Regions from separate parts of the Homo sapiens genome. Here region 1 is linked to region 2. Evidence: fine-mapped expression QTL. A gene starts in region 2. The other region holds a variant in brackets. All regions are shown on one strand. Distances are between the middles of the regions.

Evidence for each region. PIP is the estimated chance that this variant, and not a neighbour inherited with it, causes the effect.
Region 1: its variant is fine-mapped to the expression of LINC00469 in whole blood (INTERVAL, PIP 0.96).

What each region holds. Positions count from the first base shown.
Region 1 is chr17:73,765,578-73,777,469 of GRCh38, reverse strand. The region is part of intron 2 of LINC00469 (long intergenic non-protein coding RNA 469); the gene reads left to right. Among named protein-coding and RNA genes, the nearest start is that of LINC02092, 15 kb to the left of the region's middle. RefSeq lists enhancers at 6,237-6,736, 6,737-7,238, 9,589-10,089. The variant TG/G (reference allele first, on the strand shown) is at 5,746.
Region 2 is chr17:73,823,014-73,834,905 of GRCh38, reverse strand. LINC00469 (long intergenic non-protein coding RNA 469) reads left to right here and starts at 6,369. Exons shown (of 4, transcript NR_027146.1): 1 at 6,369-6,458; 2 at 11,081-11,218. RefSeq lists enhancers at 4,531-5,030, 5,031-5,532, 6,523-7,032.

The DNA of each region.
Region 1 (11,892 bases), 57 kb after region 2:
AAGGGGCCCTGAGGCCATGGCGAAGACCCAATTCTCGTTCTGGGAAAAGGAGGAGGTCTGAACGGTTTGAGCTGTGAGTGGCTCACCCTGGCTGCCATGCTGAGCATGGGCTGCCAGGGTCAGGATGGGGCAGGAGTCCCAGCTGGAGCCGGAGAAAAGCACTTGAAATGGGGAAGAATGATGTGGGATTCTGGGCAGTTTGAAGCAGAGCCGGCAGCATTTCCCAATGGATGGAATGTGGAGTGTGGGAGAAAGAGATGCATCTGTCCTGGCTCATAGATGTGTGGCCCGAAGAACAAACTGGAAGGACAGGGTTGCTCTATGCCGAGATGTGGGAAGAGTCTGTTTGCTTTCTGAGTGTGGCAGCTCCCTCTGAGGATGAAATCACAGCATAACACATTGGAATGGCAATAACTGCCTTGAGACAGAGGTGTTATATCCAAGAAAAAGCGCTTTCAGAGGAGGCTGTGGTTGAAATAATAATGATTGTTTTGATGCATTCCGTATCCAACTGATGGAAAGCACACTTAGCAAGTCAAGAAAAACATGAAAGAATCCAAAGGGCTCCAGGCCAAGACCCAAGTTGACATCCTAAAGCCGCCTGGGAAGTTGAGAGGAAATCGTCTCCCTGCCCCTCCTGGGAGTTGGGGCAAATGGCACCATGAGGACCCTAGCCTCCACCGGGGCGTCTTGGGCCACATCTCGCTCCAGCAGTCAAGCCTCCGAGCTGCCGATGTACGGATGTGGTAAGGATTGCCGATGACTTTTTCATCGCTTTTACGGCAACTCTCACTGCATCCGCCATTCTTTGCAAGGAGAATGTGAATGAACTTCAGATTGAACTACAGACAGAAGAAATTCTTCCTGCCAAAGACACTTAAAACCCCTCCCGTCGGCACCGAGCCCCAAGAATTCTGATTGTGGCAGAGAAAAAACAGCCAGCAAAGATAATACCAAATAGTATAAAAATAGAGTGGGCTTAAGGCAGAGAGACAGAGAGCTGTAGTGTCTCACGCTCACTACAAACATTTACAGAGCATGCAGCTGGGAGGCAAGACCAGCCAAGGAGATACCAACGCCACGAAGCTCTGGGCGAAAGAATCTTGCTAATACTGACATCCATTTCTTCGGGCCTTCATTTGATGAATATTGAGGTGTACAAAGCTCACAAAGGTGTCACGTCCAACATGTCTCTGATGGCGCTGATAGACCGAAGGGGACTGTTTTCAACAATTTGAGCCAAGGTGCTGATGTCCGGCGTGTGAAACCTGGGTAAGCAACCATCTCCAACACAGGCATCTCCATGGGCAGGGCATAAGCCACGCTGCCCAGGACCACCTGTCCCCGCTCCCTGCCTTCACGATCATTCTGTTTTTACCCCTGGGGTTAGGGATCGGAGGAAGGCTGCAGTTTCCTAGCGACCATCTGTCCCTCATCCTTACTATTCCCTGTTTCTGCTTGTGAGGGTGACGTGGGTTTGCGCCTGGGAAGGGCATCTTGTAAGGCTTTCTGTTTGTCAATCTGTGAACAAATATCTATATCCAGTTTACTTCAGGCCAGGCCTGTGCTAAGCGCTGTCATGTAATAGGCTCTCAATAAATATTTGTGAGGCTTCAGGGATATAAACCTTATGAGCCTACCTGGACAGAAAGCCAGGTCCCTTCTCCAAAAACTTCCAGACATTTTCCCTCGAAGCAATGTCCAGGGAGAGAGGCCAGTGGGACATGGACGGGGGTACCCAGGATGGGTAGGGGATGGGACCTCAGTTCTCTGCATAGAGTCCCCACGCACCAGGCATTTGCCAGGTCTGCTGTGGCAATGACGTCCCACCCTGTTAGTTTCTCTCACTTCCAAAGCTCCAGGAAAAGCACTCAAGCCTTGGTAAATACAGTCTCTCAACTGCAGCCCTCACCTTCAAACCTGATTCCTTCTCTCCAGCCCTCAGCCTTGACTGTTCGAGTGAACCTGGTCAGCATTTCTGACCGACCTGTCACTTGGGTCTCTAGTCTCATGCTCTGGGACTAATGGATCACATCATCTGGGACAGGTGCCCATGCCTGGGCAGACCCATATACATGCAGTCCTACTCGGTTATAAATATCTATGGAGTGCAATACCAAATAATTGTGGGGCATATTTCACCCTGCCTGTTGAACACATTGCAAGAAAGGAATTGATCCCTGCTGTTTCATTTATTAGATGGTGTAATACCACAAAAATCGTTTCCACAGTATCCCAAACTAAATCATTTATTCTTGACAAAAATCCAATAAAGAGCTCAATCCTTCTCCATAGGCAGATAAAGCACAGATTAATGGGACTGCCTAGATCAAAAAATGCTGGGAAAATGAAAGCAAGATAGAGAGAGAAGCCTCCTTCCTCCTCCTCACTTCCCCAAGACTGCCTCGGCTCAGGGTTTTATTACAAAAAGCCGCCTAAGTATTACAGGCTAATCCGTAAATCCCAGCCTAGTAAAATATGTGACGGATTTGTAAATTGTGCCCTTTACAAATCTGATTGAACTTTTTTTTTTTTTTGGCTGGGAATTTTGCCTTTCTCCTTTTCCTCTTCTTCTCACCTTGTCCCATCTCGCTGGGTCCCCAGTGACCCGGAACCCTGCATCTGACAGTGTGGGCCCCCAGCACTGGCAACATTCCTGGTATGTTCAGCCCTTCCATGACCCTTCTATGACTTGACTGACAGAGGGTGGAGATTGTTGGTGGTACGAGAGGCTGAGAAAACCATCATTCTCTTTATTTACCATCTAAGGGGAAATGAGATTCAGATGGGGCCAGGGCCCCAGGGCCAGGCGTAGCAATGTCAGGGGCACAGGGCATGCTTGCAGCCAAGTATGAACGTGGTGAAGGATTTGTACATTGTTTCCAGTGGAGACAGGAGTAGATCAAGCTGGTGACCTTCAGATCCACAGACTGGCTGCTCAGAAGAGCCTTTGCCTTGGCTGGGCGCGATGGCTCACGCCTGTAATCCCAGCACTTTGGGAGGCTGAGGTGGGCAGATCACGAGGTCAGGAGATTGAGACCATCCTGGCTAACACGGTGAAACCCCATCACTATTAAAAATATATATATACAAAAAATTAGCCGGGCATGGTGGCAGGCGCCTGTAGTCCCAGCTACTTGGGAGGCTGAGGCAGGAGAATGGCGTGGACCCGGGAGGCTGAGGCAGGAGAATGGCGTGAACCCAGGAGGCAGAGCTTACAGTGAGCCGAGATCATGCCACTGCACTCCAGCCTGGGTGACAGAGCGAGACTCCATCTCAAAAAAAAAAAAAAAGAAGAAGAAAAAAAAGAAGAGCCTTTGCCAGCAAATCTCATTCTGCCCACTGACTTGAGCCCACTACCTTCAACCACCCAGAGCAGGTGGTTCTCCAGGGTCCATCCACTGTACCTGGTCCACACTGTCCTTGGCGTGCACTCCATCTAGGGTACCAACCATCTCAGTGTGCCCGAGACTGATGGGGCTCCCAGAAGGCAAGACTTTCAGTGCTAAAAAGTCTCAAGCAAACCGAGATGAGTCACTCGCTGGCTGTGCATCCTCTGCCTGAAGTTCTGGGCCTTCTGCACCCTGAGAAGAGCTAATCACTCAGGCCAGCTTTTAGCTTTCTCTGCCTGAAACCACTTCCCTTGCAGAAGCAGAAAAGTGCCCGAGCAATAGCATGGGCTTGGTAGTCATCCAGCCCTGGGTTTGGGTTCAGGATACCCGTGGCCATTGGAAAGTCACATAGCCTTTCTCGGCCTCAGTTTCCTCATATGAAAAGTGGAGATAATAATACCTACTTAATTGGATCATTGTGCTAATTAAATGAACAACAAAAGTGAAGCATCTAGCATAGAGTAAGCACACGGCAATATCATCATCATCATCATTGTTTGAACACATCTCCTTAAGTAAGACTGAAAAAGAAAAGTATGACAATGGTGAAAAGCCCTTTGAAAGCTGGTGCAATGACAACCCCCCGACCATCTCACTAGAGATATAGCTCCTTATTCTTGCAATCTGAGCACTGGCCAAAGCCCAGATGTCAGTCTTTAAAGGAGCCAGTAATGCGAGCCGCTGGGACGCAGATGATAGGATGGAAACCAGGTCTTTCTGCTTGGTGCTGTGCCTCACATAGTTTCAATCTATGGGGCTATACCCCAGCGCCCCAGGAAAACGACTGCTTCCTCTTCTTACAGATTTTACAAAGGCAAAGGAAAGAGCCACCTGGGATGGTTGCCCTATCAACTTTCCTCAACCACCGCCCCCTACACACTTAGGCCTGTCCAGCATGGAAGCAGGGCTAGAGAAACAAGGAAAGGAGAACGGTCCTGGACCAGCAGCCTGGAATGGCATTTCACAGGCTCTAGAAATGTGATAGAGAGTACCAGCCCTGCAAACAAGAGTGCTGCTCCCTGATCCTGCTCATCCTGTTGCCGTCTGGGGGTGAAATTGTCTTCAGAATTCTAGATTGATTGACTGCTGGGAAGTTCGTCCTGCTGTTCCACCTCCATCCCTCCCAAGGATGAGGGTGCCTTTGGAAGGGACAGGTGCCCATGCTTGGGCAGACCCATATACATGCAATCATACTCGGTTACAAATACCTAGAGAGTGCAGTGGAGGCAGTGGGGCAGTGGAGAGCTCAGGACCTTTTCCAGGTCCAAGAGCCTAACAACACTGCATCTTGCTTGGGTCCTAAGATAGGCCTTCTGCAATGAGGCAGGGAAACTAGGAACAACTTGTAGATAGGGGATTTGCCTCCCCAGAACACTCTAAAAAAGTGGAGTTCCCATCTGCTGTGTTTCTGAAAGCAGAAGGAGTGGATTCTGTGAGCTCAGGCTGCTCCCACAGAGCCAGGGTCCTCCTTTTTGTCCCTTGGAACATCCAGTTGGCGCCTCCACTGCCCCAGTCAACCTTTATCCCTCTATTTCCTGCTGAGAGTTAATCTTATTTCCTGCCTTCTGGGTGTTTAGCTTGGCAACCCAGAGAGCCACTCAGCTGGACCTCTCCCATTCTGCTGATCACAGCTGGGAGAAGGTTAGAGAATGTGACTCCCACAGCCATGGCCCTGGATGGGGTCTCCCGGGCAGTTTATCCTGCCATTGTGGTTCTTGGCATTGAGATGCAACGATTCTAGTTCTGTTATTGAGGGGGTGCTGTGTGGGTGTGAGGGAAGCAGGTGATCGGTCAGGGGGTTGAGGGGCAGTTGCCAGGGTGTGGGAGGGGAGGGGGAAAGCTGTGCCCATTACTCTTTTGTGGACTTGGAGGTGAAAAAAAAATCAATGAGACATCCTGTTTCAACTCATCCTGAGTTCAAGTTTAAGGGCATTTGAAAAAGTGCTCGTTTTCTTTTCTGGGGTGGGTGGTCATGACATGAAAGAGGACGTACCAAAGGATGGGGTTCCCATTCAGTGGGAGGTTTCATGGTGTCATCCCTCCACCCATCACTCAAAAGGCCTAAGATCTGGGAGGCAAGATGAGGTCTTTGTAGATAGCACAGGCTGGGGTCTAGGTTTGGGAGCCCCTTGGTCATGACCTGGCTCCCATTCCCATACCCCTGTTGCTCCATCGAGAGCCCATAGATCAACCACCAAAGCTCCATTCAGGGTCTTGTAGATTTCGTTCCCTCATGGAGGATTTTAAAGGGAAGGAGGGCAGCTAGCAAGGCCAAGAGGCATGAGAAGCAGGGCCCCTGTGTTACCACCACACCAAAGCTTACCTGAGTGGAGCTTGGCAGCTCTGTTCCCCC[TG/G]ATTCTCCCAGGCATCCTTCCAGAAGTCCTAAAGTCAAAATGCCAGAGATCTGGCCACGTGGGTTCCTGCTAGCTTGTCCCAGCCAGCACCCAAGAGACCACAGGGCATGATGAGTAGAGGGAGTGCCAGAGCAAACTCATTGGACTCAGGGTGAGCATCTCAGTAATTTCTTATTTATTGGCCTCCTCCAGTCCCACAATCACTGGTTCTGCTCAATATTTTATTCTTGTTGCACCTACTCAGGCGGCAGAGCTGCAGGCATTTTTGATAAATGGATTGAAAGGTTTGTCTACTTTTGCTGAAGCTTCCATAAGTGCCTCTGTATCCTCCACTGAAATTATATTTCCCAACTTCCTACAGTGATTTCTCTCCCCTCGTGACTCCTCTCTTCCTATTTGCTAGGTCTTGTGCACTCTGTCTCTCTCTTCTCCCCATCTCCTACAAACACATACACACACACACACACACACACTCATGCAGAGATGCCCATATCCATGAACTCACAAACTTAACTACCCCTATGACCACTCAGGGGAGCAATATACAAGGGACCAGAGAGTATATCTATCCATTGACAGGGACGCACATACAACAGCCATGCACACAGTACATCCCCTCAGGCACACGAATATAGATGCACACATGAGCTGTGGCTTGTGATTGAAATCTCCATGCTGCTCTTTCTAAGCTCATCCAGACTCAGACCCTGATGGCAGGCTGCAGAGACCACAGGTCCACCCTGAGCAAGGGAGGACACAGATGGGCAGACGCCAAGGAGAAGCATGGTGCCCCAGTGATCCCCGCTGGGGACCCCAGTGAGCCTTCGAAGAGCCCTGCCCCATCAGCGGGCTGACTCCCCCAGCCCTCCTCCAGCCCTCCTTCATCCTCACCCGCCTGCCTGGCCTCAGCAGCCCCAGTGGGCCAGCTGGAGGCTTTATCCCAGCCACATCTGAAACAGCTCAGGAGCTGTGCCTGGCCGCCAGCCGTTTCCATAAATAACTTGCTGGGCCTGGCTCCTTGCCCTCCTGGTGATGTCATTGGCCTTGGCCCAGATGATGAGGTCACAGGCTTCCCTTCCCTCGCCACTCCCTTGGGGTGGGATGGGGGAAGCATGAGACCTTCTTCACAGAGCCTGTCTGCCGAGAACCTGCCTGTCTGCGCCCCATCCTGTTCCAGCCCGGCCAGGCAGTGGATGTGGGTTCTCCACCATCTGGGACTGCCTGCATGGTGGTGCCAGATGGCAGCCTTCCCCCTCCTTGTCACCAGTTCCTGAACAGCCTCCCAACTTTTCCATCTCCCCACTGCCTTCTCCCCTTGTCATGATGTGATTTCCAGGGGACAGTGGACTTGGTGCCCGGATGGAGCTCCCCCTAGGTCCAAATCCTGGCTACCCCACCCACTAGCTGTGTGACTCCGGACAAGATGCTTCACCTCTCTGTGCCTCTGTTTTCTCATCTTTAAAATGGAGGCACTGATAGGACCTATCTCAAGGGTTGTCGTGAGGCTGACATGGGCTCATACCTATAAAACACAGTGCCTGGCGCATTAGTAGACAAATAAATTGATTCCATGATCACACTTCCCTGTGCCTGCGTGTGCTGGGGAGAGGGGAGGCTCTTGCTTTGTGCATTTTCAAATATGTGGCAGGCAGAGGCACCCGTGATCTCCTGTCTGTGGCTCTCACATCCCCCACAGTCACCAAAGATTCCATTTTCCCAACTTGGGCTCTCCCCATCGCCTCATTCTATTCCAGTGGTGGCCCCAGCTGATTCCCAGAATCATTGCTTTGGTCCTGGAAGTGGGAATGGCCAAGATGTGAGAGGGTCTTTGAGAGCTCCAAGGTGTTCTGAGGCCCCACAGCCACCCCACTCCACAATTACCTCCAATAGAAGAGAGCCAGACTCCCTCCCTGGCCAGCACTAAGGTCACCAACATGAACAGTATCAGACAACACAGAATGACCAGCCAGGAGCCCGTGGGCATTGGCTCCAGATGTGTGAGTTTGGAGAATGCCCTGCGGAGGCCATGGGGAGATGGCCGTCTCTGGACTGGAGAGTGGAGAAGTTTCACTGTGATTTCATCACTGTGCTGTTGGATATGACAGCCCTGAGCCACATGTGGCTATTGATCACTGGACACTGGGCTAGTGAGGTGCCTGAAGTGTGGGATACACACAGGACTTTTAGGACCCAGTATGAAAAAGAGATGGCAAGATATCTCATAAATAATTCTTTTATATTTATTATGCATGGAAATCATGGCATTTTTCATATATTGGGTTAAATGACGTATGCTATTGTGAGCAATCTCACCTGTTTCTTTTCACTTTTTTTTAATGTGGCTGCTGGAAAATGTAAGGCTACACGTGTGGGTTGCGGTGTCTTTCAATCAGGTAGCCCGGGCCTGTTCTCTCACTGAGTGCTAGAAAACATTCTTTGGCTCCCATCCCGAGGGTTCTGACTTGGTGAATGTGGTGTCTTCCGGAGCTTAGGGCTGCTGCCTTCAGCCAAAATATGCCCGCACCCCTTCATCAGTATCTGGAGAAGACCGGGACTGGGCACTGTACCAGGTGCTCTGGTTTCCTCCCCACGTGTGGTCACCGCCTGCCCACCATCCTGAGCTCAGCCTTATATATTTAAGGGGGGGCTCCCTAAATTTGGCCAGAACACCCCCAGGACATCAAGCACTCAGTGCCACGTGGCCCCTCCTATTCTTCCCGCCACAGCTTGTAGCACCTGCCTAGAAGTTGTGCCTCTCTTCTCCCTTCATGTAGATCTTATTCATGCTTTAAAACCTAAATCAGAAGTCACCTCCTCCATGAAGCCTTCCTGGACCCCTCCACTGGATGAGTCACTCTGGACCATCATAATACTTTGCCTCAAACTCAGTGAAGCTGTTTCTCAGAGTGTGTGTCCTGATAGAAGGTGTTACATGCCAGGCCATTTCTGTTCACATAAATCTTCATCACAATCTCAAGAGGCAGAAAGTAGGATTATTCTTATTTTCTATATGAGGAAACTGAGGGAGAAAGATTAAGCATCTTGCCAAGGTGGCAGAGTTTATAGTAAAGAAGCAGAATTCCTGCCCATGGGGTCTGATTCCCAGGTCATGCTCTATCTGTCATGCCTGATGGCCCAGTCACAGGTAGCATCATTCCTGGTACCCCCCCAAAAGACAATGACAGTATTGAGAGTGGGGCCCCAGTTTATCCATCACTGTAATCCCCATGTTATTCACTCAGGTTTAGGCACACAGTAGGTGCCCAATAAATGTGGACTGAATGAAACCAGCATTTAGTTATTAGCCTTACTGTGCTTTGAAATTGGGTCCTAGTACCCATGTCCCCAAGGCCAGCCCTGGCCATCTCCCACCCCTCACTCCACCCACCTCCATCCTGCCTTCAAGGCTCAGTGGCCTCTCCGTACCTCCCCAGGGAGTTTTGAACTGTGCTTGTTCAAAACTCAGTTATTGTCGTGCGACCTCTGTTAGCCAGAAATTAATTCCCCAGGTTACCACTACATAAAAACTCAACTCTTTTTATGGTCTCTATATGCCTTGCCCTTTCCTCTTATGCAGGTCTCTCTGTACTTCTAGGGAATAAATAAATACAGTGTAACTTTTAGCAGACTTTATCCACTGTAGCCCTCCGGGCACCGTGGGGCCTGGAGCCAGCTAGAACCCCAGCTGCATCTGGGGGTTGGCAGGTGGGGCATTGGGAGGATTCTGTGTCTCACCCTAGAGCTCTCTGTTCTGGGGACTCCCTGGGTCTTCACCAGCCAGGCACAATCCCCATCGTGGTCCATGGCTGCACCCCTCCTGCCAAAGCTCCCTTGAGGAGTTGTTGCCCCCTGCTGCACCCACTCCTTGCACCTGTAACCACACTTGACAGTGGTGAAATTGGCAGCAGCGGAAGGAACGCCCACTGAATTTCAGTAGTGGGTCAACCCCAGTGCTGATAGAGGCTGGGCCAAGGGGCACAGCGTTCGGGGACTCCAGCTACTGAAACCCCCTCCCATCCCAGGGAAAGGCATCAGAGAAGATTTTTGTCTGGCTTCTAGACCATGCCCTGTGATTCCAGAGGGTCCCTCATGTAGGTGGTGGGGTCTACGACTACCCTGGAGCCATGAAGCTCCCCTCCCGCATTTATATCAGGGCTGAACAATCTCCACCTTGCTCATGTCCCAGTGGGACCTGGACTCAATGGTATGCTTGCTAGTCTGGGATCAAAGGCCAGTAACTCTGACAATGTTTCTCATCAGGAAGGCAGGGGGACATCTCTGTTCTCCTAGTTCCCACAGAAAGATCTATGTGTGGGTTGAGTCAATACTCTGTTGGAAGAGAGAAGCTCTAGTCTCTGCAGGGACAAGCCAGCTAAGGGCCCTGTCAATTTCATTTCCCTTTCACCATTTAACCAAGAAACATCCCAGTCTTTTTTTTTAAAAAGTCTCCATGTAGTAAATGATGATTAACACCAAAAAATAAGGGCCTCTTTCCTTTCCCCTTCTAGTTTTCCTATGTTTGAATCCCAGGGCAAAACCACCTTGTTAGGTTGCCTGGTCCGTATATCCACCTCAAACTGGCTCTACAAGAAACCCTTTGGATTTTTGTACCAATCCTCAGAGCTGGGAATCCTTCGCCTCCGGCCTACAGTCCTCGTGCTGCCTCTACTGGATCCAGCGATTGCTTGGGGACAAACGATCATTTCTCAGCTTAGGAATTGTGAGAAGAAGGTATTTAGGCTCTAGGTAGAACTGCCAGATTTAGCAAGTCAAATCACAGAATGCCTAACAACAAAACTAAACAGTGGGTAGGGTTTTGGCATAAGTATGTCCCATGCAATATTTGAGATATACTAGAATTTTCCCCATTGTTTCTCTGAAGTTCCACTTTAGCTGGGTATCCTAGCCCTGGGCTGCAGCCTCAGGCTCCCAGAAGTGATTGTGGGGTCTGTGGGTTGTCAGCCTACAGAGAAGGATTATGTCTATAACTAGTCCCACCAGTGACGACACACAGTCTTTACGGTAAGGTGGGGTAAGTTTTGTGCTCGGGATGAGCTGTTTAGGGTGGTCCGGCTCTCCCTTTGCCATGGAAGAATGAAGCCTCCCTCTCTTTCTGGCCTTGAAAATGCCCCAGCCTTTGCTCACTCTCTCTTTCCCCGCCCTAAGTCCCTGTAATGGACCTCAGGGTCCCCTGTGGGCTCCAATCTCCTGTAATGAGTCGGTTGCCATGGGTGTGTTTGGCTCCAGCAACCGTGGCTCTTGGGACCAGTTGACTCATGTTCAAGTACACCTTTGGAGTCCACGTGCTCCTCTACTGCTGCTGCCCTTGGCTCAGCAGGAATCTCACAGCTAGAGTGTTTCTATATCTGGGGCCTTCCCAAGCTCTACACCCCCATCTCACCGCTCCCTGCCCTCCATAAGAAAGTTTCCGGGGATGGGAGCAGCTATCTCTGAGATAATTGCTTAATTAGGGGAAAATTACTTAAATTTCAGCAGCAGCAGCAGCGGTAGCAGCAGCAGCCACTGTGCTGCTCTGACTATAAAATCCTCTAAAACCCAGTTCCCTTAGAAAGGAGATCACTGCCCACTCAACACCTACTCCTCCTTCTCCAGGGAGAGGGCAGGAGAGAACCTGAGCGGGATGTCAGGGGCCTCTCGCACACACACTTGGACACACACACACCCCTACATCCATGCACACACGCACAAACACTACATCCGTGCATATGCACACACACAGGCCCTCACCATCGCAGCTGGGCTCTGCTAGACGTTGGTGAGCTTGTGATTTTATCAAAGTCCAGAGGCGGACATATGTTACGGACTGAATACTTGTGCCACCGCAAAAGTCGTATGTTAAAGCCCTAACCTCGAATGCAATGGTATTTGGGGTATTTGGAGGTGGGGACTTTGGGAGTAGATTAGGCTTAGATCAGGTCATGAAGGTGGACCCCCAAGATGAGATTTGTGTTTTTTGGAGAAGAGGAAGAGAACAAGGCTGCTTCTTTGTGCCACATGAGGATACAGTAAAAAGTCAGCAGCCGGCACGCCAGGAAAAGATCCCTTACCAGAACCCAACCATGCTGGCACCCTGAGCTCGGACTTACATCCTCCAAACTGTGAGGAACAAATGTCTGTTAAGCCCC
Region 2 (11,892 bases):
TCCCATTTGACAGATGAGAAAACTGAGGCCACACCGTAATCGAAGATTCGAGTCAGTTTATGGAAGGACCAACCTCCTGACACTCATCCCCATATTCTGTTCAGGGCTTCACTTAGCAAGCCAGCAAGGCAGGGAGAGTTCAGAAGGTTGGCAGGGAACGACTGGCAGAAGCATCAAAAAATTAAGTTAAAAATCGGCTCCAAAACACCTCCTCCAAGAATCCTGCAAAAATTGGTAGCGGGCTTGGTTTTCATGGCACCTGAGAACCTTGAGCCCAGCAGACCCTTTAACAAACACTTGTTGAATAAAACCTGTGAACAAGTGACTGAATTTTAAGGTCACCTTTTTAAAAGCAGGCGTTGTCTCTTGATTGGGGTCCCTCACCCATCTCTTTGGCCCTAGTTCTGTCTTGTCTCTCTCCGCCCGCCTCTTATCTATCACGCTCGCTTTTCCTGCCTTCTCTCATTAGCGCTGGAAGGGAAATGCGCCACTCCAATTCTCCGGCTGCCTCCTCACTGCTGTTGAGCTTCAGAGCACAGTATTTAAATCCTGTTAAATAACCTGTTTTCATGGGCAATCACAGCCAGGTTAGTAAATTCCCCACACGCTCACGCTTTAGACAAAACCGACATCCCAGGTCCACAGAAAATTGGCCATTGTCCTTTAATGGTGAAATTGAACTGAGCAAATGGTGGCACTTTAAAAGAAAGTCGTTGCCATTCACACAAAAAGTTCAGCCTACTGCTCTGGAAATTTCCAGTTCACAGCCCATTTCTCTCCAGGTATAAAGGAGAAAATAAATACCCTTGCAAGGCAAGTGATTAATTTCAGCCAGCATTTTTGAGGCTCCTGCTGATGGCTGGCTCTCGGGCTCTTAATCGGTGGCCCTGGCCAGGTGGGGGGTCCCATCTCTGGGATTTCAAACTGGCAGCTTCTCTGCTTCCACGTGACTGCGAGTCACAGGAGGAATATGCCTCTTGTCATGCTCCAGAAGATGGAGAGGCAGTGAGCGGAAGAAGCTGGGAATTACTCATTTTTTTTCATGACTCTAATGGGCTACGAACCTAGCTTCTGTCATGTTCTCCACCACCACCTCCATGCCTTTAATAGGCACCACTGTGTGCATGGCTGCACATTAAGGGGACTGTAGAGAGATGCCAAGAGGTATATGAGCGTGCCTCCATTGGTGAAGGGATTCAGTAGCTTTATTATTATTATTATTATTATTATTATTATTATTATTATTATTATTATTTTTAGAGACAGAGTCTCACTCTGTCGCCCAGGCTTGAGTGCAGTGGCACCATCTTGGCTCACTGCAACCTCTGCCCCCTGGGTTCAAGTGATTCTCCTGTCTCAGCCTCCCAGGTAGCTGGGATTACAGGCGCCTGCCACCATGCCCAGCTAATTTCTTGTATTTTTAGTAGAGACGGGGTTTCACCATCTTGGCCAGGCTGGTCTTGAACTCCTGACCTCATGATCCATCCGCCTCGGCCTCGCAAAGTGCTGGGATTACAGACGTGAACCACCACACCCAGCCAGTAGCTTTATTTGATCCTGAGGGTGGCTCAGAAGATGCCTAGACTTCCTGCCACTAGTAGATGGTTTAGATCCAAGCCTTTAGTTTTTTATTTTATTTTATTTATTTATTTTTTTATTTTTTTGAGATGGAGTCTCACCCTGTCACCCAGGCTGGAGTGCAATTGCACTATCTCGGCTCACTGCAACCTTCACTTCCCAGGTTCAAACTTCTGCCTCAGCCTCCCGAGCAGCTGGTACTACAGGTGCCTGCAACCATGCCCAGCTAATTTTTGTATTTTTAGTAGAGACAGCGTTTCACCATCTTAGCCAGGCTGGTCTCGAATTCCTGACCTCGTGATCCTCCCACCTCGGACTCCCAAAGTGCTGGGATTACAGGTGTGAGCCACTGCGCCCAGCCAAGACTTTGGTTTTTGTTATACGTGGGCAGCACCCAGAAATGGCACTCATCTCCCATTTGCCCTAAACCAATAACACCTTGTGAATCAGTCATCGACTACTGTGTAACAAATAACCCTAAACTTGGTGTGGCCTCAAACAACAACCATATACTCAGTCTCAATTCTGTGGTTTGCCAATTTACAGTGGACTCAGCTGGTCTGAGATGTTCTACTGAGCTTCACTGAGCTCAGCTGCATTCATCTGCACAACTGCTGGGTGGGCTGGAGGCTGGTTGGCCTAGCTGGGCCATGGGCTAGTTCAGGCTTGTTCACAGGTGGTCTTAGTGTTCCACGGTCAAGAGTGGAGGCTTCATGGCCTTAGAGTGGACACATTGTCACTTCTACCAGCTTCTGTTGACCACAGCAAGACAAATGGCCAGTTCAGATTCAAGGGGTGGTGTAGTAGTTTGAATAGTGTCCCCAAAAAATGCGTGTCCATCTGGAACCTCAGAATGTGACTTTCCTTGGAAATAGGGTCTTTGCAGATGTAAATAATTAGGGATCTCCAGGTGCAAACATCCTAGATTTAGAGTGGGCTCCAAATCCAATGACCGGCATCCTTGTAAGAAGAGAGGAAGACACAGAGACAGAGAGACACAGTGAGAAAGACACACAAAGTCAGAGGCAGAGATTGGAGTGATGGAGCTACAAGCCAAGCAAGTCCAAGGATTGACACCAGGAGAGAGATCTGGAGTGGATTCTCCCCTAGAGCCTTCAGAGAGAGCATGGCCCTTCCAACAACTTGACTTTGGACTTATTCTGTTGTTTCAGCCACCTGCTTTATGGCAATTTGCTACAGCAGCCCTAGGAAGCTAATATGGGAGGGAAATAGACTCCAGCTCTTGATGGGGGAAGATGCAAAGTCATATTGCAAAGGATGAGAATACAGGAAGGCAGGGGGAAGTAGAGCCTCTTTTGCAATCTTGCACCTTGGTTTACCAGTCCCCACTTTGTTCCTGGCAGGTGTCTTAAAACCGAAGAGCATCACAGAATGCCAGACACCAGACACTCACCACACGCAGTGGGTGCTATTTCTGCACCAGGCTCCAGAGAGTGCGTTCCTGGGTGCTGACGCTCCTACAGCTGCCTCCTCTGCAACAGCCTCTCTTCCCTGTACAGATTCCTCACCACATCCAGCCAAATTGCCTTCATCTCAGCAGAGGCTGTAGAAGGCAGACGGCCAGGAGAGTGGGGCCGTCAATGCACTGGGTACAGCAGTGATCCTCCAGGATTTTCAACACCTCAGGTCCTAGTGGCCTGGGATGATCTGACCCCAGACACCCTCCCCAGATGCAAGTCCATCCCCAATGCACAGGAAGGAATACATCTCTGGATTGACTAAAACATCATACTGGAAAGGAAGTTTGACAGAGGAAGGTCATTCTCATTCCACAGGCACTTCAAAGACAGGCTTCTCTCTTGGGAGTCGAGCTGTAGCTTCCATGAAGTTTTCAGCACGTTTTCTGAATACCCACCTGTCATCGATGCTTGGAGGTGCAAAGTGGGTTGGATGACTGAATCCTGCCCTTGAGAGCTGACACTGTCACCAACGTTGTTGAGATGGGCTGGAGTCACCCACTGAGCACTCAGTGACTGGTACGCCAAAGGCCAAGGCCTCACGGTGGACACCATGATGAAAACAACATACAATTAGATGGGAGGAAAACATTCTGTTCTTCTCTGGCACAGAAGAGTGGCTATTGTTAATACTAATGTACGGAATATTTCAAAATACCTAGAAGAGAGGACTTCGAATGTGCTCACCGCAAAGACATGACAAATATTGGAGGTGATGAATTTGCTAATTACCCTGATTTGATCCTTACACAAGCTATACATGTGTGGACACATCACACTATACCCCATAAATATGTACAACTATATGTTCTTTTTAAAAGATGGAAACGATGCCAATGTCCATCAACTGGTGAATGGATAAACGGAGTGTGTGTGTCCATATGATGGGATCGCATTTGTCCATGTAAAGGAAGGAAGTGCTGATACACGCCACAGCGTGTGTTGGTGGACTGCTCGGGGCCCATGCACACCTTGTGTCCAGGCTTCCTCTTGCAGGACCAGGATCTTCCCTGTCTCCTTCCACGTTGCTGAAGAGTCACCCTGCATCAGGCAGTGGATCACAGTGGCAGAGTGATGAGCTTGATAGACAAGGAGCAGCCTTCAGGGAGCTTTCACCCAGTAGGGGAAATGGATGAATAACCAACAACAACACCTACTTACAGCTTGTGAAGGTGCCAAAAAGAAACCAGAAAGGTGCCCTGGGAGAGGGGAGCTGGGGTGGGGATAGTGGGTGAGAAGGAGTTGAAATCTGAGCTGGGACATGAGGAACTGTGCTATACAGGGTTGAATAGTGCCCTCCCCTGCCCCCACCACCATTCATATTTTCTCCAGGAACCTCAGAATTTTTTTTTTTTTTTTTTTTTTTTAAAGAATCAGGGTCTTAGTGTGTTGCCCAGGCTGGTCTTGAATCCTGGCCTCAAGCAATCCTCCCACCTTGACCTCCCAAAGTGCAGGGATTGCAGCGTGTGCCACCATGCCCTGCCAGAATATGATCTTATGTGCAAATAGGATCATTGCAGATGTAGTTAATGTGAGGTCATACTAGAGTAAGATGGGCCCTTAACCCAATATGATTTGTGTCCTCATATGAAGGGAGAAGAGACACAGCCATGCACAGAGGAAAGACAGTGAAAGCACAGACACGCAGAGGGAGATGGCCTCGTGACAACAGTGGCAGAGGCTGCAGCGATGCAGCTACAAGCCAGGGAACCCGGAGGATTGGTGGTAACCACCTGCAGCTGGAAGAGGCAAAGAGGATGCTCTCCCACAGCCTTCAGAGGGAACAGGCCCCTGGCAAGACCTTGACTTTAGAGCTGGGCCTCCACAATGATGAGAGAAGCCATTTCTGTTGTTTGAAGGCACCCAGTTGATGGCAATTGGTTACAGCGTCCACAGGAGGCTGAAACAAGAGCGAAGACTGTTCCAGCAGAGGGAGGAGCCAGCGCAGATGACTTCACGAGAAAGTTCCTAGGCCTGCTGGAGCAGCGGCCGGGACGCCCAAAGGAGCGGGAGCCCTACAGGCAGGCAGGGATGGTCCCAGAAGGAGTTGGTGCCCAGCCACAGGGTCTTGTAGACCATGGTGATGATGTTTGTTTTATTCTAAGAACGCTGGGAAGTCATTGAAGGATTTTACAAGAAAGATGAAACATGATTTGAAGTTCATTTTTGAAAGATCGCATCAGCTGCTCTGTGAAGAGGAGTTTTGAAAGAGGCAAGAGAGGAGGCAGGACAGCCACTGTGGCCTGCAGGTCCTCAAACGATTACACAGAGTTACCGTGTGACCCACAGTTCCACTCCTCTGTATAGACCCACGAGAAACGAAAACATATATTCATACAGAAACCTGTACAAAATGTTTAAAGCAGCATTATTTGTAATAGCCCAAAGATAGAAACGACATAAATGTCCACCAATGAATCCATACAATGAGGTAGTTATTTGGCCATAGAAAGGAATGAAGTGCCGATAGGACAGCATGAATGAACCCGGGAACCATCACGATAAGTGAAGGAAGCCATTCACAAAAGACCACGGATTGTATGATTCCATTTAGACAAAATGCCCAGAAGAGGCAAATCTCTAGAGACAGAAAGTAGATTACTAGTTGCCTAGGGCTGTAAGGGTGAGCGTTGGGGAGGGGAGATAGCTGAAGGGTCAGAGCTTCTTTTTGAGGTGATACAAATGCTGTAAAATGGACCACGGTGACGATTGCAGCTACATGGAATATACTAGCAACCATTGAATTGTATACTTTTTTTTTTTAAGTGAAAGCAAGCTTATTAGAGAAGTAAAGAAACAAAAGCATGGCCACTCCATAGGCAGAGTAGCCTGAATTGTCCACTTTAAATGGGAGAATTACATAATATATGAATTACATTTCAATAACGCTGTTTAAAAGAAAAAAAAAAGAGTGAAATCTCAGAGGAGGCCACTGAGCACTCTGGTGGAAGAAAATGGTGACTTAGGCCAGGGTCATAGAAGTAGAGACAGCAAGAAGGGATGAAAACAGTGGATTGTGGAGGCCGAATAGACAACCGATGAATAGGTCAACACCTGCTGTCCATCTGTACGAGGGAATATTATTCAGCCATAAAAAGAAATGAAATGAACCTTGCTGCAACATGATGTTAGGTGAAATAAGCCAGACACAAAGGCCCCATATGGAATGATGTCACTTACACGAGGTTTCTACAATAGGCAAATTCATAGAGACAGAAAGAATGGAGGTTACCAGGAACTGGGAGGAGAAAAGAATGGGACATTATTATCTCACAGTTCCAGAATTTGTTTGGGATGATTTAAAAAAAAAAAAAAAAGCTCTGGAAATAGATCATCAGGATGGTTGCACAATGTTTTGAATGTAAATGCCACTGAATTGTACACCTTAAAAGGGCTCAAATGGTAAATATTATGCTATGTATATTTTACCATGATGAAAATAAACGTACAAAAGTGAGACAGCAGTGAGTCTAGGCCTCCCTTTTAAGAAGCGATGGCATCAAAGAGAGCAGAGGAAGAGAGATGGAAGTTAGGAAGGGGTTTTTCAAAGAGCAGATTCACGGGAAACGATTCATTCGTGCAGGAGAGAAAGGATGAAGGAGGAGCGGGGTCCCTTGAATGTCCACAGGCAGAAGACGAGGGCAGAAGGGGAGGAGGTTGTCTTTGTGGCGGACAGAGGAGCTGTGAATAGGGAGGGAAACAAGGGTGTGCCTTCCGTTTACTCAGCACAGGAAGAAGCAAGGCGAGGAAGAACAGGCTCCTTTTTGAAATGCAAAAGCCTGTTCTTATCTAAACACTCTTGCATAAGACAAACAAGAGCGCTACCCAGTTGGTGACTTGGGACAGGAATGCCTGCCACCCTCTTAAACGTTCTCTCCCCTCCCCTAGCCTAGACTGAAGACCTCGGCCTCCAGCTTCTCTCCCAGACCCTTTCTTGGCTGGATGAGGTCACTCACCCCTTTTGAAAGCTCCACAGGCATTTCTGGACCAAGTTCCCTCACTCTTTTAAATGGTTCTGTAATTGCTTCATTCGCATAAACCTGCCCTCCTGGGCATCTGAACAGCCCCAGGGCAGGGCCTGACTGCAGAGCCAGCTTCCTTACGCCAAGGCCCTCGTGCCTGCGTCCCTCCTCGCCTTCAGCCATGAGGTTGCCTGGCCAGCGGTGGGGGTCGCCTGGATCGTGGGGATGTTCCCCCCACCCACCTGGCCCCACCAGTGAAGGGCCCCAGCTGACACCATCTCTCTTGTTTCCTGTTTTCCTGGGTCAGACCCAGCTGGAGGTCTGCAAATTCTGAAGCAGTTCTCAACCCTGGGTGCACATTTTAATCATTTTTTACAAAATACGAATGCCTGATGTCCAGCCCTGACACTGGTCTGCTTGGTCTGGGGGTGAGGCCCTGGAACGGATGTGTTTAGATTTCCCATGAGACTCTGATGTGCAGCCAGGGTACCAACCTCTGCTCTAAAGCAGGTGAGATTGCCCTGGGGACTTCATTAGAATCAGTGCCCAATTCCTCCACCCCCGCAGAGATTTCGCTTCTGGAAGTCCAGAGTCGAGGTCCAAGAATCTGTGCATTTTAACAATACAGCCCCCAGGGGAGCTTGATGAAGGTCCCTTGGGAAGTTCAGGGCATGGTGCAGGGGACACTGTCTCTCTCTCCTTCCCTCTCATCTGCATCAGCTCCCCAGGCAGGTGGCACTTTCTCTGGACAGGTCTGGAGTCAGGGCTGCAAGGCTGGTTTATGCCTGGAGGTCGGGGGATGATGTGAGGTGTGCATAGAGAGAAGCCCCTGTGAGGAACGGGGACCACTCCTGCTCACCCACATCAGTGACAGCCCAGCCTGGGGCTGGCCCTGGAAGGCCAAAGAGTGAACAGGTCTGGGGGCTGGTGCTGGGTTGAGCTCAAGGGCCTGGGGCTGGGGTCTCCATTCCAGATTCCTCCTTCCCTCTGTCACTTCAAGTACCATCAGAGCCACCTGGGGATTTTGTCCTGAGTCACTCTGAGGCAGAGCAGGTGAGGCTGTGCTGGGGAGGAACATGGGGGCCTGAGCCCCCGACTCCTCCCCATTCCCCCACCTGCCCTGCTTCAAGGACTTGTCTAAACTACACAATGCCAGGCCGGCGCTCCCAGCTTGGGCTCTCACCCCAGGTCCCATTGAGAAGGTGGAGAAGGGTCAGGATGGAAGTTTCAGGCAGGTGGTCCAGGAGAGGACAGTCCTGGGTGGAGTCTGGGTCTTGGGTGCTCTGGGCAGCTCATCACCTTGAGTGTCCAGACTGTCAAGTCCGAGCGAGACAGGCAAAACCCCTAAGTGGACAAGAGTTGGCAGGGACCAGGGCAATGATTAAATCCACTTCAGATCATTTCTGTGGCCGTCTTGTTACCCAGCCCTGGCTATGTGTTTCAATAACGGCTGACAGCGGGTGCAGTGAGCTGGGCTGGAAACTGCCACATCCATCCACCCTGCTCAGGGACAGCTGCTCCCCTATCCACAATTCCCTTGTCCCAGAGGCCAGGACTGAGGCCAGGACACTGACTAGACACCCAGGCCTCCTGGCCTCTAAGAGCCACTCATGGGAGTCATCCACGACATCTGGGGAACCTCCTTGACTTCAGAGGAGGATATTGGAGCCCAAGCTAATTGATGGGTAAGCCAGGACCTGAACACAGGTGGTCAAGCTCCATCCTCCCCTTGGAGAGAGGACACAGTCCTACAGAAAGCCAGACTGCTTGGATTTGAATCCAGGCTCTGCCTCAGACGAGCTGTGTGACTCTGGACCTGGGTCTCAGCCTCTCTGTGTTCCAAGTGTCCTGTCTATTAATGTGGACGATAACAGTCCCTACCTCTTAGGGTTACCATGGGGATTAAATCTGGTAATTTAATTTTTGTCTTTCTTTTGAGTCAGAGTCTCGCTCTGTTGCCCAGGCTGGAGTGCAGTGGTGCGATAGCTCACTGCAACCTCTGCCTCCCGGGTTTAAGCAATTCTCCTGCCTCAGCCTCCTGAGTAGCAGGGATTACAGGTGTGCACCATCACGCCCAGCTAATTTTTTTCTATTTTTAGTAGAGACGGGGTTTCTTCATGTTGGCCAGGCTGATTTTGAACTCCTGACCTCAAGTGATCCACCCACCTCAGCCTCCCAAAGTGCTAGGATTATAGGCATGATTTTTCTTTACACCTCTTTATATTAGTGCTTACCACGTGTCAAATACTTTCCTAAGCACTTTATAAAAATTAAGCTATGGATAGTGACCCCGATGAGGTAGGTCCCACACTTTATACACAAGGAAACTAAGTCACAGAGAGATTAAGGTTATACAGCCATTAAGTGGCAGTTGGAATTCAAGCTGGAGTCTGGTTCAAGGGTCCATCCATGCTCTTCGCTACTTACCATGCTGATGCCCATATGCGTACCAGAAGGCAGTAGGTGCTTAAATGTTTACAGCACCAGTGATTACTATTAGACCTGAGCTGCAGAATTTGTGGCTGATGGTGGCTGGTCTGTGATCATTGTCTGGTGGGTGGGTTGCCCTAGCCCCCAGGCCTTCCTCTTGCTTTTTTTCCCCTCCACTCTTGAAAGGGAAGCTGAAGCTCTGGAAATCTACAACTATCTGCTGTGGGGGCTGCCTGAGCAGGTGGCAGGGCCCTTCTCTCCTGTTCCACAGACGATCTGATTCACGGTGGGCCCCTCGTGGCTGCTCCTGTCCACCTGGGCTACCACTCACACCCCTGCAGCCCTCCCTCCGATCTTCTCAAAGGCATGTGAGATGGTTTGCAAAAACACCCTCAACCCTGAAGAACAATCTAACTGTAAAATGCTCAAGGCTGGGCACAGTGGCTCACGCCTGTAATCCCAGCACTTTGGGAGGCCGAGGCGGGCAGATCACTTAAAGCCAGGAGTTCGAGACCAGCCTGGCCAACATGACAAAAACGGGTCTCTACTAAAATACAAAAATTATCCAGGTGTGGTGGTGTGTGCCTGTAATCTCAGCTGCTCCAGAGGCTGAGGCAGGAGAATCGCTTGAACCTGGGAGGCAGAGTTGCAGTGAGCCAAAATCATGCCACTGCACTCCAGCCTGGGTGACGGAGGAAGACTCCCTCTCAAAAATAAAAATAAAAATAAAATGCTTAAGAAAAATGAAACAAAACAAAAGCAATATCATTGAAATAAATGGCAGGAGGCTGCTTATTGAGGGGGTGTGGGAGAGACAGGGAGAGACAAGGAGAGAAGGTCATTTCCAGGATCTGTTCCTCAGATGGAGCCCAGTATGCACCGCTCTTTCCCAGAGCGGCCCTCTACAGATGAAGTGTCACAGCAAACAGAAAACCACAGATTCAGCCCTGGGGGCTACCAGCTTGGAGACTGGAAGCTTTCTGCTCCTCCTCTTAATTACTTTGTGCTTGAAAACCCTCGTGGCATATTGACCCTCCCAAGAAGCAGTAGGACGGGGGAGGACTCAGGACCTCCTAGACAGTCCTCTGAGTCCTGTCCCTTCATTCCCTGACAGTCAAAAGTGAGATTTTTTCCTCCATAAAGGAAAGGTGAGTCTGCCACTTCAGATTCTCAGCAGGCACTGCCGTCTCAGTGTTCTGGCCTGAACTCTTTGGAGGAGTCGTGTGACTACAAGCCTGAGAGCTGAGGACAGGGCACCCAGGGGATCCCAGGGACCAGCAGAGAGCTCTTTCCAGCTTCCTAGGTGGGTGTCCTGGCCAGTCCCACAGGCCCTTGTTTAATGGTCTGCTGTTGCTGTCTTGAAATTTTAAATCATTTTTCACAAGAATTGCAACATTTTCATTTTGTGCCGCCCTGCCAAGTGAAGTGGCTGCTTCTGCCTGGGGGTGTCAGTGTCCCATGGACATAAGGCACTGAAGTTAAGGGGCTCCTTTCTCCTCCCTCCTGGCATTTTTCACAGCAGGTTTCTCAACCACAGCAGTGGTGACACTTTGAGCTGAATTATTCTTTGTGGCGGGGGCTGTCCCGGGCCTTGCCGGATGTTTAACACCACTCCTGGCATTTACCCACCAGACGTCATCAGCACCCACCCTCCCAGATGTGACAATCAGAAATGTGTCCAGACATATCCAGATGTCCCTTATGGGGAAGGGAGAATCGCCCTGGCTTTGCAGACTCCAGCTGGAACCCCTGCTGCAAGCGATGGAGGAGGTGAGCTTTTCTTTCAGACTGACATAGAAAATTCCTTGGCAGGTCTTGTCCTGGGTTCACTCAGACACCACCAAAATAAGGAAATAGCTGAAGAAGAAGGCCAGAGCTTCTGAACGAAGAGAAACCCTACCAAATTTGGGTAGGGGGAGACTCTGAGGAATATTCCATAAGGTTGGGAGGGAGGTAGACAGGTGGATCCCAGACACCTGGACTCCTTGATGGAGGCAGGTCTAGCTCCCCTTCGCAGCTTCTGAGCATGCCCCCTGGCCTCCTCTTTGGACTCCTGCATCAAGAGGGCAGATGGGAAACCACCAGGCTTTGGGTCAGAAGACCCAGATTTAAATTTCAGCCACCCGCTATGTGACCCTGAGCCAGTTTCATAACCTTTCTGAGCCTGTTTTCTCACCCACAAAATAAAACTAACCATACCTACCTCGGGAGTCACGAGATGAAAGAAAAAGTGTGTCAAGCCCCTGGCAGGTGCTCAGTATCAGCAGCTATTAAGCTTTTTTCTAACCAACTCTGAGCAAATCCCTGACCCCCTGGAGCCCTCATTTATCCTCACCTGGGCCACAGAAAAAATAGCTGACTGGCGTCTTTCCCCCAGCCAAGGAGACAGAGACAGCCTGAAGATAAGACTGAAGTGAAGAGCCAGGCGCAGTGGCTCACACCTG